2 separate regions of the Homo sapiens genome follow, and region 1 is linked to region 2. A link means that fine-mapping ties the variant in region 2 to the expression of a gene that starts in the linked region. Tissue or cell type: whole blood. Region 2 holds a variant in brackets; the other region holds the start of a gene. All regions are shown on one strand. Distances are between the middles of the regions.

Region 1 (8,000 bases), 110 kb before region 2:
AGACAGAGTCTCACTCTGTCGTCCAGGCTGGAGTGCAGTGGCATGATCTCAACTCGCTGTAACCTCCGCCTCCACAGTTCAAGCAATTCTCCCACCTTGGCGTCCCGAGTAGCTGGGATTATAGGCACCTGCCACCATGCCTGGCTAGTTTCTGTATTTTTAGTAGCAAAGGGGTTTCACCATGTTGGCCAGGCTGTTTTTGAACTCCTGACCTCAAGTGATCCACCCGGCTCAGCCTCCCAAAGTGCTGGGATTACAGGTGTGAGCCACCACGTTCGGCTCCCTGGCCCTCTTCTAAGGGCTGCAGATACCTCATCTCATTTAATCCCATCTAGACTGTGTAGATCTCATCATCCATAGGCATGGATAGCACAGAGATGAAACTGAGGCTCAGAATAACTGGCCACCAATGGGAAGGGGCCAAGCTGTTACAGAGCCTGTGCTCACATGTTGTAACCCTGGTAGATACCCCCTCCCCACCCCAACCTTGGGTCAAGGAACCAGGCCAGGACCTAAGCACAGTTGGTGTCCTGTGGACATGAATTTATTAGAGGGGACTGGCACCAGAGTGGGCACAAGCTGCAGGCTGGGAGGAAGGGGCAGGGGTGGGAGCACAGCCAATGGTGTGTCAGTCAGTGGGCCAGCAGGCGTGCTGTTCTTCACCCTGCAGAGCTTCAGTGCCCAGGGCGTGCCGGAGGCTTTGGGAAGACTGGGGAGAGGAAAGAGTGAGGCTCAGAGAAGAAACCTGCCAAGCTCACACGGGAGGGGCAGCACGTCGACCCCAGGCCCATGGCCCTCTCTCTCATATTGTTGGTCCTCACTCCTGCCTCCCAAGCTCCCACACCAGCCCCCAGCTCCTGTCCCATCCTGCACTCACTGCGGAGGGAGTAGGTGCCTGGTTCCAGTTGCATCTGGGGAGGCAAGACGATGAGAAAGTCCCCACCCCAGGCGTTTTTGACCCTTGAGAGATAATTTTGGGAGGGAGGGCGATGACATTCAGAGGTCAGAGAAGGGCACTTGGATGACACAGGCTTAAGCAAGTGGCTGCTGCAGTGCTGGGGCAAACCACAGGGGGAACAGTGGGGCGGCGAGAGGCCAGGGCCCCGGGGAAGGCGAACAGGGACCTGTGGACAGACCCTCTGAACCCCACCATGGTGGGGGCGCCGGTCCCGAGTCCAAGCCCAGTGGAATGGCTCCTTTGCCATGACCTGGGAGGAGCAGAGTGGACAGTAAATGGGGTGGGAACCCCAGCCTTCCCCACACCCCAGGTTGCCTCCCAGCCTCACCTCCTCACAGCACTGGCGGCTCACAACAGCCCGGAAACCCATCCGTGCCCAAAGCTTATCCCTCTGGTGCAGGAATTTCCCCACTCGTAAACACCAATCTTTTCCCAGGGCCCATGGAAAAATCTCACATTTGGGGCCCTCCAGGTCCTCCTCCATGTCGTTTGCAAGGTACCTAGCCACAGAGGCACAAGGTCAGGGAGCAGAGGCCACACATCTGCCCTGTCCCATCTGACACCTCCAGCAAATGCCTCCACTGCCTGCCCCCACCACTCACAGGGCCAAGAACAGGCTGCTGTGGGTATACTCGCTGAGCTTCAGGTGGGCGCGCTGGAAGTAGACCAGCACCATGGCCAGGAGATACTGCAGAGACAGATCGGGGTGGGGGGTTAGTTATTCTCTGAGGAGGAGGGGCTTGCACCCAGGTTCATTTGCACCCAGGGAGGTTTTGCTGCAGGGAAAGAAAGTCAGTAAAATGGTGGGAAGTGGTGTGCAAAGATGAGGGGGTAAGGATGGAAGGTGAGTGGCTCTCCCTACCAGACCAGGGCACTCAATTCCCACCAACTCAACCTGACCCTCAAGAGACCCCCAGCCTGTACTCCCTCACCTTATCTGAAATCTGGAAGCAGGGGTCTTTGGAGAGGAATTCCTGGACAAAACTGTCCTCTGAGGGTAGAGAAGACATGACAGGACGCAGGTTACCACCACCTCCATGGAGAAGAGTGGCATCAGAAGCTCCAAAGCCCAAGCCACCACTGAACCCTCTCTCTCTTTCTCTTTTTCTCCCTTTTTCTCTTTCTCTCTCTCTTTCTTAATATAAATAGAAATGGAGTCTCACTATGTTGACCAGGCTGGTCTTGAACTCCTGGCCTGAAGTGATACTCCCATTTCAGCCTCCCAAAATGTTGGGATTATAGGTATGACTCACGGTGCCTGGCCCTGAATCCAGTTTCTGAGAGGACACCCCTCCCACCTGCCTAAGCTGGGATACCTGAGAGGGAGAGGGTCAGAGGTCTCAGATGTCTGTACAGGCAGGTGAGACCCCACACTTCACATCTGCTTTCACACTTGACCTCACGGCCCCTCCCGTGCCAGCCCTCCAAACTCACCCAGAAGGCTGAGGAAGGCCTGGACCTCCTGGTGCTGGCGAAAACGGAGGAACCCATTGCCCCCACCTTGCCGGCTGCAGCCCCCCAGCTCTACCTGGGTGGTAACTACAGGGGAAGTGGTGGGGTCTTGGGAGTCACTCATCTCATAGGAGATGGAGATGGGGCAGGGTGACCTGTAGAGAAAGGAGGCTCAGGACTTAGCATGTACCCCCGTGATGCTCACAAATCAAGAGGGTGGTGACAGGGGCCAGGACGGTGGAGGGGTGGGTGCAGAGACTTGGGGGCTCAGAACAGAAGGCAGCCGGGATGCAACAAGAGTGGGGAGGCCAGAAAAGAAGCAAAGAGTTGCTATAGGTGAGGGTGTGGCACCCTCACCCTCCTCCTGGCACCCCAGGACAGGCCAGAGTAACAGCAGCAACAAGCACCGCTGAGGGCTTCCTAAGTGCCTGGGGCTGTGCTTAAGGGCCTTATCTTATTCCATCCTGGTAAGGAGGTAAGTTTAACTCAGACCGGTCGTCAAACGAGGAAACTGAAGCTGAGGCCTAACAGCCGGTTAAAAGTGAAGCCCTTGGTCTCCAAAACCCCAAGAGGTTTTTTGGTTTTTGTTTGTTTGTTTTGAGACACAGTCTCTCTCTGTCGCCCAGACTGGAGTGCAGTGGCGCGATCTCGGCTCACTGCAACCTCCGCCTCCCGGGTTCAACTGATTCTCCAGCCTGAGCCTCCCGAGTAGCTGGGATTACAGGCATGCGCCATGCCACCACGCCCGGCTAATTTTTTTTGTATTTTTTTGGTAGAGACAGGGTTTCACCGTGTTGGCCAGGCTGGTCTCACACTCCTGACCTCCCAAAGTGCTGGGATTGCAGGCGTGAGCCACTGCGCCTGGCCAAAAAAAAAGAAAAAAAAAACCCAAGAGTTTAACTGCTCCTCTAGGCCCCAACTCACAACCACCCCCGACCCCTCACCAAAGCAGAGTTGAAAGGGCCACTGATCCCTTACACCGAGGGGAAACTGAGGCCCTCAGGGAGGAATGAAATTAGAAAAATACCTGGATTTAGAGCAAGTTGATGGGGCCACTTCAAACATTTCAAGCTCCCGTCCTAAACCCACCCTCATCCCTGAGAGAGAGAAGCCAACCACGGGGCCGAGGAGAACGTGCGGTCGACCACCCCAGGGCCAATCTGGGCCCCTCCATCTAGGCGCCCGCAAGCAACCCAGCCTCCTCCTGCAGCGAGCCTTACCCGAGCTCAGGAATGGCCCAGAGCATAACACCAACGCCGCCGCGAGTGCGCTTATATAGCCTGAGGGCGGCCCTGCCCAAAGCAGCCCGTCCACCAATCAGGGCCTTCCTGGGGGGCGAGGCTTGGCCTTCACCGCCTGCCTCTCTGCCAGTGAGTCCAGTCGGCACCCAGCTGTGGCTCCCCAGGGTTTGAAAGCCTCTCCAAAGCTTCATCAACTACAAGAGGGGTGAAGGCAGGCCAGCTGGACCCCAGGGCCTAAGGCCCCATAGGACAGGCAGGGAGCTAGGATCCCTGTTCCCCTCTTGACAAATGCAGCGCCAAGGTGCTGAGCCGGGATATGAGACCCGGACTGCGAGGGCCTGGTGGGCGAGTTTTTTTTCATTGATTGTGCCTTGCTAGGGCAGGGTCTCTGGCTCTCTATGGGTGTCTCTGAATCTCCTGGCCTCCTTGAGTCTCTAGGTTTCACTGAGGCCCCCCGAGTCTCTCTTTTGTTTCTTATTTTATTTTTCCCCTCGTAACACAGAACAAGCTGCCTGGGTCTCAGTGGGCCTCTGAGTCTCTCAGTTTCTTGTTGCCTCTGGTGTCTGGATGTCTGTGGATCTCTGGGTCCTTTGTTTTCTCTCTGATCTCTGGTCTCTGGTGTATCTGCTGTTTCATGGTCTCCCCCAGGCCGCCTCCCAGGCTCCCTGAGGCCGTGAAGGCCTTTCTAGACCAGCTGGTCTGCATCAGGCCATCCTGTTTGTGTGTGTGCACGCATTTGAAGTCGGCCTCCCCTAGAAAGGAAGTAGTGAGTGGGGCAGCATCCATAGCCCGTTCACTAAACACCTACTGCTGCCTACTGAGGAGTCTGTGATGGAATCAGCTCACGTGTTCCTCACAGCAAGCCCGTGAAGTTGATGAGAATGATGAGAAGCCTCATTTTGTCAGCGAACAAACAACTAACACACAGAGTTTGGGTTGCTGACCGACAGGCTGAGTAACTTCCTGCCAGCCACTCAGCTGGTAAGTAGAGATAGAGTTCCAGCCTGGCTGCTGGGCCCACACGCTGGGTAGCCTGGCTGTGTGGTCTACAGCTGTTCCTGGACGCTGCCTGCACAGAGAAGGTGTTCCATGAAACCGAATGAATCTCCTAGACCAGCTGTGTTTTCAACTGTTCTCCTCCTCCCCCAGTAATTAAGGTTAGAGATCAGGAAGGTGTACCAAAAAGAAGCCTGGGAGTGGGCTAGTCACTTTAACTTTGGGAGGGCCTTCAGGCTGATTTCCTTCAGTGCCACCCCTGGAGATCTGACACCGATCTCCCACACTGGGGAGAATATTTGTTTTTACTTTTTTTTTTTTTTTTTTTGAGACGGAGTCTCGCTGTGTTGCCCAGGCCGGAGTGCAGTGGCCCAATCCCGGCTCCCTGCAACTTCCACCTCCAGGGCTCAAGCAATTCTCCTGCCTCAGCCTCCCGAGTAGCTGGGACTACAGGCATGTGCCGCCATGCCTGGCAATTTTTTTGTTTTGTTTTGTTCTCCTGACCTCATGATCCACCCGCCTTGGCCTCCCAGAATGCTGGGATTACAGGCATGAGCCACCATGCCCAGCCTTTCTCTTTCACTTTTCAGAATCCCATGATTCACTGGGCTCTTCAATCTGCCCAGATAATCTCCCCATCTCAAGATCCTTAACTTGGCTGGGAGAGGTGGCTTACCCCTGTAATCCCAGCATTGTGGGAGGCAGAGGAGAGCAGATCACCTGAGGTCAGGAGTTCAAGACCAGCCTGGTAAACATGGCAAAACCCCTCCTCTACTAAAAATACAAAAATTAGCGGGGCATGGTGGTGCATGCCTGTAATCCTAACTACTCGGGAGGCTGAGGCAGGAGAATTGCTTGAGCCCTGGGGGTGGAGGTTGCAGTGAGCTGAGATCATGCCATTGCACTCCAGTCTGGGCAACAGAGCAAGACTTGGTCTCAAAAAAAGATCCTTAACCATCTGCAAAGTCTTTTTTGCCATGTGAGATAACATATTCTCAGGTCTGGGAAGTGAAATGTAGCCATCTTTGGGAGTCCATTATTCTGCCTGCTACAATTATCACAGCAAAATTTATTCTATGCTAACTAATATACTATTTATAAAATTTATATTCATGTAAATGTATATATAATTTGTAAAATCATATATTAATATTGCATGCTATAAAGGATACACGTAAAAGGATATAAAAGAATACACATAAAACATAATAACATACTACCAGCTCAAAAAATATATATATGGCCAGGTCCATTGGCTCACGCCTATAATCTCAGCACTTTTTGGAGGCCGAGACAGGAGGATCATTTGAGTTCAGGAGTTAGAGACTAACCTGGGCAATACATCAAGGCCCCATCTCTACCAAAAATAAACTAGCCTGGCATGGTGGCACGTGACTGCAGTCCTATCTACTCAAGAGGCTGAGGTGGGAGGATCACTTGAGCCCAGGAGTTCAAGGCTGCAGTGAGCTATTATCATGCCATTCTACCCAGCCTGGGTGACACAGCAAGACCCTGTCTCTAAAACATGAATAAATAAATAAATAAGAATATTAAAAATTTCAAAATATAAAGATAGAAAAAATAATATGCAATTACTAAAAGAAAGCTGGGATAACTACACTAATATATTAAAACAACTTTAGGCCGGGCGCGGTGGCTTATGCCTGTAATCCCAGCACGTTGGGAGGCCGAGGCAGGTAGATCATTTGAGGTCAGGAGTTCAAGACCAGCCTGGCCAACATGGTGAAATTCCATTTCTACTAAAAATACAAAAATTAGGTGGGTGGTAGTGGCGAATGCCTGTAATCCCAGCTACTTGGGAGGCTGTGGCAGGAGAATCGCTTGAGCCTAGAAGGCAGAGGTTTTGGTGAGCCAAGATTGTACCACTGCACTCCAGCCTGGGTGACAGAGTGAGAACTTGTCTCAAAAAAAAAAAAAAACAAAAAACAAACAAAAAAACACAACTTTGGACAAAAAGCATAACTAGGGAGAAAGAGAATTTATGTAGTGATTTTAAAAATATACAGCCGGATGTGGTGGTGTGCACCTGTAGTGCTGGTCTGGGCAACATAGGGAGATCCTGTCGGTAAGAAGAGGAGGGGAAGGAGGGGAGGGAAAATAAAGGAAAGGAAAGAGGCAGGAAGAGAAAAATAAAAGGAAAAAGGAAGGAGAAGAAAGAAAGAAGGGAGGGAGGGAAGGAAGGAAGAAAAAAAAGTGTATAATTACCTAACCAGAATCCAGGTAAAGAAAAAAATATATAGTAATTTGTTTACTCCTAAAAATAAAGTCAATAAGCAAGAAACCGCATGTGTGTGTGTCTGTGTGTGTGTGTGTGTAAAATCAACAGAACCACACGGAAAAACAAATCACAATCATAATTGTAGATATGATGGCACATGCAAGGCAAAAAAGTTAGCAAAGCAGTAAAAGATATGAAGAATATGATGAAGAAATTTGACCTAGTGGACGAATAAGCTGGCACTGCACCCAACAAAGGCAGGAAAGCACGCACAGAACATCTTCCTAAAAATTAATCAAATGTACCCGGGCGAGGTGGCTCACGCCGATAATCCCAGCACTTTGGGAGGCCGAAGCAGGCGGATCACAAGGTCAGGAGTTAGCGACCAGTCTGGCCAACATAGTGAAACCCCGTTTCTACTGAAAATACAAAAAGCCGGGCGTGGTGGCGGGCGCCTGTAGTCCCAACTACTCAGGTGGGTGAGGCAAGAGAATGGCGTGAACCCGGGAGGCGGAGGTTGCAGTGAGCGGAGGTCGCGCCACTGCTCCAGCCTGGGTAACAGAGCAAGACTCCGTCTCAAAAAAAAAAAAAAAAAAAAAAAAAAAAAAAAAAAAGAAAAAGAAAAAGAAAAAGAAAGAAAGAAAATATTGTCTGTCAAAGTTGGAGGACACAACTAGTAATTCTTAGAGAGGAATTTATGACCTCAAACGCGCGTGTTAGAAAATAAGAAAAGCTGTCACGCTGATGAACTGAACTCCATCTTAAAAAGTCACAAGCCAGCCAGGGGGACTTCCGGGTCCTGAGGCCCAAGGGGCTGCCTGGGTCCCCATCCGCCAACTTTTGCTGTCCACACAGCCCCAGACAACAAGAAAGGAAAAATAAAACGCTGCCAAAACCACAGCGTCGGCATAACTTGAAAGCAGAGAAGGTCCAAACTTCAAGATAAATGTAAATAAAAAGAAAGCGACCATATCCCCGCACGCCGTCGTGCGCTGCGGCCTCTCCCAGGCACGAGGCTTTGTGCCAAGAAAAGCTGGGGAAGGAGGGGAGAAAGGAGTATCGATCCGGGCTGGGGTTGGTCGAGAGCAACTATCAGAAAGACTGCGACATTCTA
Region 2 (8,000 bases):
CTGGATGTCGGGCTCTGGAGCTGGGGTCCACACAATCCCATGGCCGCTCGCCCCTCTCAGGTAATGCTGGGGTCAGAGCCCCATCTGTCAGCAAAGGTCCTGAGGTGGGGGCAGGGCATGACGGAGGCTTCCAGGCCATAGACCTGAGTGATCAGCTCTCCCATTCATACACAGCTGACCTGGAGCGCCTAGGCAGGGCTGGTTCCAGCATTGGCCCTGTCACTGGCCTGGAGCCACAGAGAATCCTGTTGCAACCCTGCCTACAGCCCAAAGGAGCGGCTAGCCCTATACCACCCACCCCTTCCAAGGGGAGCCTCAGAGGGTTTCTAGCCCACCCACAGAAGCAGCCTGCCCTGCTCTTGCAAAGGAAGACAAAAAGCATAATTAGTCTCTCTCTCGGTCCCCTGCTACCAATCACTCAGGGAGAACAATTCCCATCCCACCTGTGGTTTTGCCGGGACAGGAAGACTGGGCTCTTACTGAAACACTGGTCCCAGGTGGCTATAGGACCAGGTGGCTGAAGCAGGAGGTGGGAGGGGTGGGGAGTGCTGCCTGGAACAAAAGCCTGGCTGAGGTGGGAGGGGTCTGTTTTTCAACCCTAGGCTTCGGGAGTCACTGAACACCACCCAAGTGCACAACCTGGCCCTGGGGGAGAAGCTGCAGAACCTGGTAAGACCCTGAGCCAGGACCCCATTTCTTTGTCTTGCCTCCTCCCTGCCTCCCAGCCCAGCTCTCCTAGAGGGGCTTCGGGTTGTCCTGCATGGCTGGCTACCCACCTCGAGCCCTGCAACCCTTTGTCCAGCCCACCTTATTGTATAAGAGCCTGAAGGAGGGAGCCCAGGCCATCCAGGAGGAGGCCCAGGCCATCCAGGATGAAGTGAAGGCCCTGCAGGAGGAAAGCCAGGCCCTGCCGGAGGTGGCTCTGCTCAGGTGTGCGGGCAGCCATGGCAGCGGGGAGGGAAGAGGCGGCTGCCCCATGCTGCTCACTCGAGCTGTCTCTGCCTGCAGTGACCCAAACCCCCGGAAGGCAGGTCTCCTCTTCAAGCTGCCTGACCTGCCCCACGACCACAGAGACCAGGGTCAGGCCTGGCCAGGCCCCAGGCCAGAGGTCGGACACCTCCTCGGGAGGCCGCTCCTTCAGCCAGCTCCTCCCTAGATCCCAGAAATAAACTTGGAAGCTAAGCTTCAGCTTCACCAAGTGTCTGTGGGCCCTGGGCTCAGGTGGGGAGCAGGAGGTCACCACGTCCACACTGAGCTCAGCCCCTCAGCCACCCTCTGACATCACCCCCACTCCCTCAGCTCACCCATTCTGCATCTACCCCTCCCCGACATGGCCCTGCCCTCCCCCGACCCCTCACAGAAGGTTCCAGGCCTGGTTGTTGTCAGCCTGGAGATGAGAGCTCAAGGGCGATGTTCCCAAGATAAGCACTGGGGTGAGGCCAGAAAGGGGCCGCAGTCCCTCCCCGGAGGATCTGGGTACCTGCTCTAACTCCAAAGTGCAGAAGGATACTGGGGTGTAGGCGGGGGAGGGATAGGGGAAGAGCCACTAACCATCTGGTGACCTTGGAAAAGTCCCTTCCCCTTTGTAAGTCATGGGGTTGGGGGGCAGAGAGAGGTGGTGGCAACTCCCCAAGGGCCCGCATCCTATACCCCTCAGGCCTGGAGATACATATCGATTTTGAGTTTCACCTCCAACCCAGGAGCCCTCTGGCCCAGGGCCTCCTGGGAGCCCCCAACCCCCCTCCACCAATGGGGTTGCAAAAAAGAATACAAAAAACTGACACGTATATAGTCAAGGGGGAGAAAGCAAGGAATCCTGATAGAAGATTGCTAAATTACATACAAAATTGGTTAATATTCTAAAGGGCATTTATTTTTAAAATCCCATAACCCGGGCTGGTCACAGTGGCTCACACCTGTAATCCCAGCACTTTGGGAGCCCGAGGTGGGCAGATCACCTGAGGTCAGGAGTTTGAGACCAGTGTGGCCAACATGGGAAAACCTGGTCTCTACTAAAAATACAAAAAGTAGCCAGGTGTGGTGGCACGTGCCTGTAATCCCAGCTACTTGGGAGGCTGAGGCACGAGAATCACTTGAATCTGGGAGGCTGAGGTTTCAGCGCACCAAGGTGGCACCACTGTACTCCAGCCTGGACGACAGAGCAAGACACTATCTCAAAAAAAAATTTTTTTTTTAATTTAAAATAAAATAAAAAGTCCCATAACTCTAAGGCTTGTATTATTCACTGGGCAGAAATCATTTTGCATCTTAATCAGTTTTCTGTAAAGTAACCTCTAACTTTACAGCATCTAGGTCTAATGGATGGTAAAAGATCCACCATGCAGAATTCCTTCGTTAATCCTCGTGTGACACGGAACGGGCTGGGGATGATCATTTTGCCTTATGTTCACTGTAGGGAGACAACAGCCAAGAGGATGGAAATTCAGGTTTGTGGCTTCTCCCCAGGCCTGGTTTGACTTACACCAGACTCCTAGGGATCAGGCCTGGGCAAAGTAACTGATGAAGTGCTTGATTAGTGACTATTTGATTCTGCCCCAGCTTCAGGCTGAATTGAGCTGAGCTAACATCTCTTTTCTTCATATTTTTACATTTTATTTTTATAAATAGAGACAGGGTCTTGCTATATTACTCAGGCTGGTCTCAAACTCCTGGGCTCAAAGAATCCTCCCGCCTCAGCCTGCCAACATGCTGGGATTACAGGCATTAGCTACCGCTCCCAGACTAACATCTCTGACTTAGCAGCCCACCCCTTCTGAGACTCTACCCTCCTCACCCGATGGCTGTAGGGATCCCAGACCTCCCCAACCACCTACTTCCTGACCTGTCCTTGACCAGGGGCCCTGCTGTACAAACAGCTGTCTTGCAATTTTCCCAAAGGGAATCATAGGGTACTGAGGTTGATGGTAGTTGGATCAACAGCTAAATCAATTACCCATTTAAGGACTTCTGTCAATAAGATGCAGTCATCAGCATGGTCCCATTTGATGTTTCCTTTAAAAGGACACAGAGAGAGACTAATTATGCTTTTTTTTTTTTTTTTTTTGCGACAGAGTCTTGTTCTGTCGCCCACGCTACAGTGCAGTGGCGCAATCTCAGCTCACTGCAACCTCTGCCTCCTGGCTTCATGCCATTCTCCTGCCTCAGCCTCCCGAGTAGCTGGGACTACAGGCACCCGCCACCATGCCTGGCTAGTTTTTTATATTTTTAGTAGAGACGGGGTTTCACCGTGTTAGCCAGGGTGGTCTCGATCTCCTGACCTTGTGATACACCTGCCTCGGCCTCCCAAAGTGCTGGGATTACAGGTGTGAGCCACTGCACCCGGCTAATTATGCTTTTATTTAATTATGTCTCAGCCTGGGACAGCGCTCGAATAAGGTTACATGAATACTGCTTGGCTGCAGGAAATGGAGTCTATTACGGAGCCCCCTCCCCAACCAGCTCCAAACCACAGAAGTGCTTATAGATTCGAATGCATCCTGGCCATGGTTCTGCAGCTCAGGGATCCTTCACTGGCTGTCCTGAGGTCAGTCCCTGCAGCCACTCCTGTTGACACTGCATCCAAGCAGTCCCAGCCCAGCCCAGAGGTTCCTGTCAAGGAAGGTCCCACAGCAAAGCTGCGTGGGCCCCAGGGTGTTACCTGGTCCTTTCATTCACACACATTTCTCCCAGTCAAAGGAGGCTACCATGTGAGTCACAAGCTGTGCCCACACCTCCTGGGCCTCTGTCATCAAGGCACTGGGCTTGGGTTAGCAAATCAGCCTCCTCTGTCTGGCTGGCACCATTTCTCTAGTGAGGGGCAGAATGGGATGCCTCTCTCCTGCCTAGTGATGGCAGGTGGGATAGCTTCGTGAATGTGCAGGCGCTGCATTCTACTCTCAGCTCCACCCCTTGCTGTCTGGTGTGACCTTGACTGAGTGCCTGGACACACATCTTCATCTGTAACATGGGGTTCCACTGTGTCCACCTCGGAGGATGAATGATTTTGTGTGGACTTGGTGCATTCCATGTGTTGGCGACTGTTATCTGATCTCCAGTGGATCTACCCTGGCCCCCAAACTGGCTTTGCAGGCCCAGTGGGAGCAGCTCTGAGTACCAGTGTTCCCAGCAGGCTCCCTTCCCCACTAAAGGGCCTGGTATTCCTGCCCAAGAGGGTGGCCAGACCCTGCAGCCTGGCAGGGCCTTCCTCCATCCTGCAACGTCATCCTTTGGGAACA[C/G]CCAGCACTGAAAGTCTGTTAGATCCCATCCCCATCTTGTGAGGGCACCTGCGCCTGTTACGCAGGTGTCCTATGCATGGCTGCCTTGGCAGTCTGGTGGGGCTTACCCAGAGGGGATCTGCTTCCCAGGGGTCTCGTGCCCACCTTTTACATCTCTTATTGCTCTGAACACCCCTTGGACAGAAGACAGCTGGAGCAGGAGTGTTGAGTTGCTGTGCTGGCGTAGGTCAGCTTTGCCTCCAATCTACAAATACTTGTTGAGTGCCTCATAGGTGCCGGGCACTGCTCTGGACTCTGGGGCTTCGGCAGTGAATAAAACAAAGATGTCTGCCCTGGTAGAACTTACGCTCTGGGAGGGGCAGCAAGAAATAATGAACAAGTAACATGAGGATAGATGCAATGGAGAAAAATGAAGCCACAGAGGAAGAGGAAGCCTGAGGGAGGGGGAGGAATGCAATTTTATTTTATTTATGTATTTTTAAACATGGATTCTCACTATGTTGCCCAGGCTGGTCTTGAACTTCTGGACTCAAGCGATCTTCCTGCCTCAGCCTCCCAAAGTGTTGGGATTATAGGTATGAGCCACTGCACCCAGCCAGGAATGCAATTTCAGATAGAGTAGTCAGGGAAGAGCTCATTGAGAAGTGACATTTGAGCAAAGACACAAAGGACCTGAGGGAAGGAGCCCTGTGGACAGCTGGGGAGCAGGGTTCTAGGGAGCGGGAGCTGCCAACACAAAGGCACTGAGTCAGGAGTGTGCCTGGTAGGCTCAGGGGACAGTAGCAGGCCAGAGCTACAGGAGCCGTGAGTGAGGAGGACAGGGAGGGGACCGGGTCTGAGACATGAAGGGCTCTATGGCCACTGTCATGACTGTTACTCTGAGTGTAAAGGGAGACTTGGAGGGCTGTGAGCACGGTCGTGACATGGCGGACCTGGGTTTCACAAAGATGAGTCTGACTGCTATGTAGAGAAAAAAACTAGAGGGGACAAGAATACAATCAGAGAGGCCAGTTAAGAGGCCACTGCAGGCTGGGCACGGTGGCTCTCGCCTGTAATCCCAGCACTTTGGGAGGCCAAGGCGGGCGGATCACCTGAGGTTGGGAGTTTGAGACCAGCCTGACCAACATGGAGAAACCCTATCTTTACTAAAAACACAAAATTAGCTGGGCATGGTGGCGCATGCCTGTGATCCCGGCTACTCAGGAGGCTGAGGCAGGAGAATCACTTGAACCTGGGAGGCAGAGGTTGCGGTGAGCCGAGATCGCGCCATTGCACTCCAGCCTGGGCAACAAAAGCGAAACTCTGTCTCAAAAAAAAAAAAAAAAAAAAAAATTAGGCAGCTGGAAATACAAGAGTTCGGGGATGGGTTAGATTGGAGACATATACTTGCGGGTTTCTGGTCTATATTTAGTCATTTGTATTGGTTCTCCATTTTGCTGTGGTTTTTTTTGTTTTTTTTTTTTTTTTTTCTTGAGACGGAGTCTCACTCTGTCACCCAGGCTGGAGTGCAGTGGCGCTATCTCGGCTCACTGCAAGCTCTGCCTCCCAGGTTCACGCCATTCTCCTGCCTCAGCCTCCAGAGTAGCTGGGACTACAGGTGCCCGCCACCACGCCCGGCTAATTTTTTTGTATTTTGAGTAGAGACGGGCTTTCACCATGTTAGCCAGGATGGTCTTGATCTCCTCACCTCATGATCCGCACGTCTCCGCCTCCCAAAGTGCTGGGATTATAGGCGTGAGCCACCGCGCCTGGCCTATTTTGCTCGGTTATAATCACTCCAAAACCTAGTAGCCCAAAACCATAAACATGTATTATCTCACACAGTGTCCACAGGTTAAGAATCTGAAAGTGGCTTGGTTGGGTGGTACTGGCTGAGGGACTCTCGTGAGGCTGCAGTCAAGATTCCAGCAGGGGCCGCTGTATTCTGACGGCTTGGCTGGTGCTGGAGGACCCATTTCCAAGTTGGTTTATTCACAGGGCTGGCAAGTTAGTGCTGAATGTTGGCAGGAGGCTTTAGCGCCTCACCATGAGGCCTGTCCACAGGGCTGCTTGAGTGTCTTCACAACATGGTGTCCGGGAGGCCACGTGACTCTGCAGGCACATCCAGGGGCAAGGGTGCAGGCGCAGAAGAAGCAGAAAGTGAGTCAGAAGTAACCAGAATGGTGTTTTCCCAGTGGATGTGACCAAAGCAGAGAGGATTGGGGGTTAAGAGGGCTTCCAGGGCCTCAAACTGGGCAAGGTGAGTACACGTGGGAGGTGAAGGAGGGTGGGACGGAGGCAAGTGTGTGGGGCAGGTGGAGAGTGGGGAGGGAGCCAGCAGCAGTGCATTGCTGGTCCTGGAGGATTGAAGACCCCTTGGACCCAGAGCCATTGGGAGAATAAGGCAGGAAAATGAAAGGTGTTCATGTGCTCTAACTACCGTAAGTTATTTCTAGGAACTCCCACAATCCAGAATGTTCTGGGAGGGGCCATACCACCCACACAGCAAAGATGAAGGAAAGAAAATTGACTAAGTTAACGTCTGGTGCCTACAGCCATGTAGACACCAGTGGATTCCAACAGCCTGAGTGGATCTCTTGGGTGTCACACACACAGCTGTTTACACACTCTCCAACACAAACCACAGTCCCAGGTGTTATCACTCAGATGTCACACACTTTTGTCCAGGCGTCCTGTTTGTGACTTCACATGATTGAGGGGTTAAATCCTTCCAGGAGTGGGTGGGGTAGGACCATGGGGTTGCTGCCTCAGTCCCTCAACTTATCAGCTGACCTTGGCATCCCACTCCCCACCTGGTGGTGACTGTCCTGTGTCCTCATAAGGAAGGTGTATGCTCCCTGCACCGATGGGCTTCTGATAAGATCCAAGGTCATATTCTGGGCGTCGATAATCACGTTGCCAAGAACTGTGGCTTCCTGGTGCACCTCCCTGAAGTCACTGATCACATGACATCCCTTCCCAGCCACCCCTAGTCCTCCCATGCTGAACCTCCTCACCAGCAGCACAAGAGATGGTGGTGCCAGCAAAATGGGGTTGTGAGCAGGAAGGAGGCTGCTCTGAGAGGGGTCTGTGAAATCACACACACACACATGCACGTGCACACACACACACACACACACACACGCTCTGCCCTGATCCAGCCCCCAAGCTCTGCAGGCATCTTTGAGCCCATCCATGGGCTGCAACCTGCGAGGCAGAGTCAAGGCAGGATAGGCCATGGGAGGGTGGGAGAAGTCCCAGCTCAAGTCCCTAGGGACCCCCCCAGCCCCTCCTGGCTCTCCGTGAGGTCTGGAAGAGGCTCAGTATGTGTATGGCATACTTGGGGTCTCACTTCCCTCTCAGCCCTTGCAAATGCTGGAACACCTTTTCAGCCTTGGAGGACCCCCTCAGATGTTCCCTCCTAGTCAGAACTCCTCACTCTTTCACTGGGAGCATGGTGATCCTCCCTCTACAGGGCACTTACCACATGGCTGAACCTAAAGCCTGTCTGCCTCGCCTGCTGGATTTTGCTTCCCCACAGCCTTGCATGGCTCTAGTATAGCACAGAATGAACAGTGCTTGCATGTATAAAGGAAGGAATGAATAAGTGAATGGAGGGATGGGTGGATGGATAAATAGGAGGGTGGATGACGGAGTCCAGGCAGAGCCAGGGGATAGAAGAGGAAGTCACCTCGCCAGGGAGGCATGGGCTTCCCCTGCTGCCTCCTCTGGGACAGCCTCCCTTCCCAGGACTCCCATTCCTCGTATCGCTGGGCTCCCTTCAGG

What was found. PIP is the estimated chance that this variant, and not a neighbour inherited with it, causes the effect.
Region 1: SPDYC starts here. The variant in region 2 is fine-mapped to the expression of SPDYC in whole blood (TOPMed, PIP 0.97).

Annotation. Positions count from the first base shown.
Region 1 is chr11:65,165,892-65,173,891 of GRCh38, reverse strand. SPDYC (speedy/RINGO cell cycle regulator family member C) reads right to left here and starts at 3,659. Exons shown (of 7, transcript NM_001008778.3): 1 at 3,631-3,659; 2 at 2,393-2,565; 3 at 1,891-1,949; 4 at 1,561-1,646; 5 at 1,287-1,458; 6 at 878-1,208; 7 at 518-709. The coding sequence starts at 2,534. The coding sequence ends at 675.
Region 2 is chr11:65,059,482-65,067,481 of GRCh38, reverse strand. It overlaps a transcript of NAALADL1 not described here and a transcript of CDCA5 not described here. Among named protein-coding and RNA genes, the nearest start is that of NAALADL1, 4.9 kb to the right of the region's middle. RefSeq lists a silencer at 431-725. The variant C/G (reference allele first, on the strand shown) is at 4,236.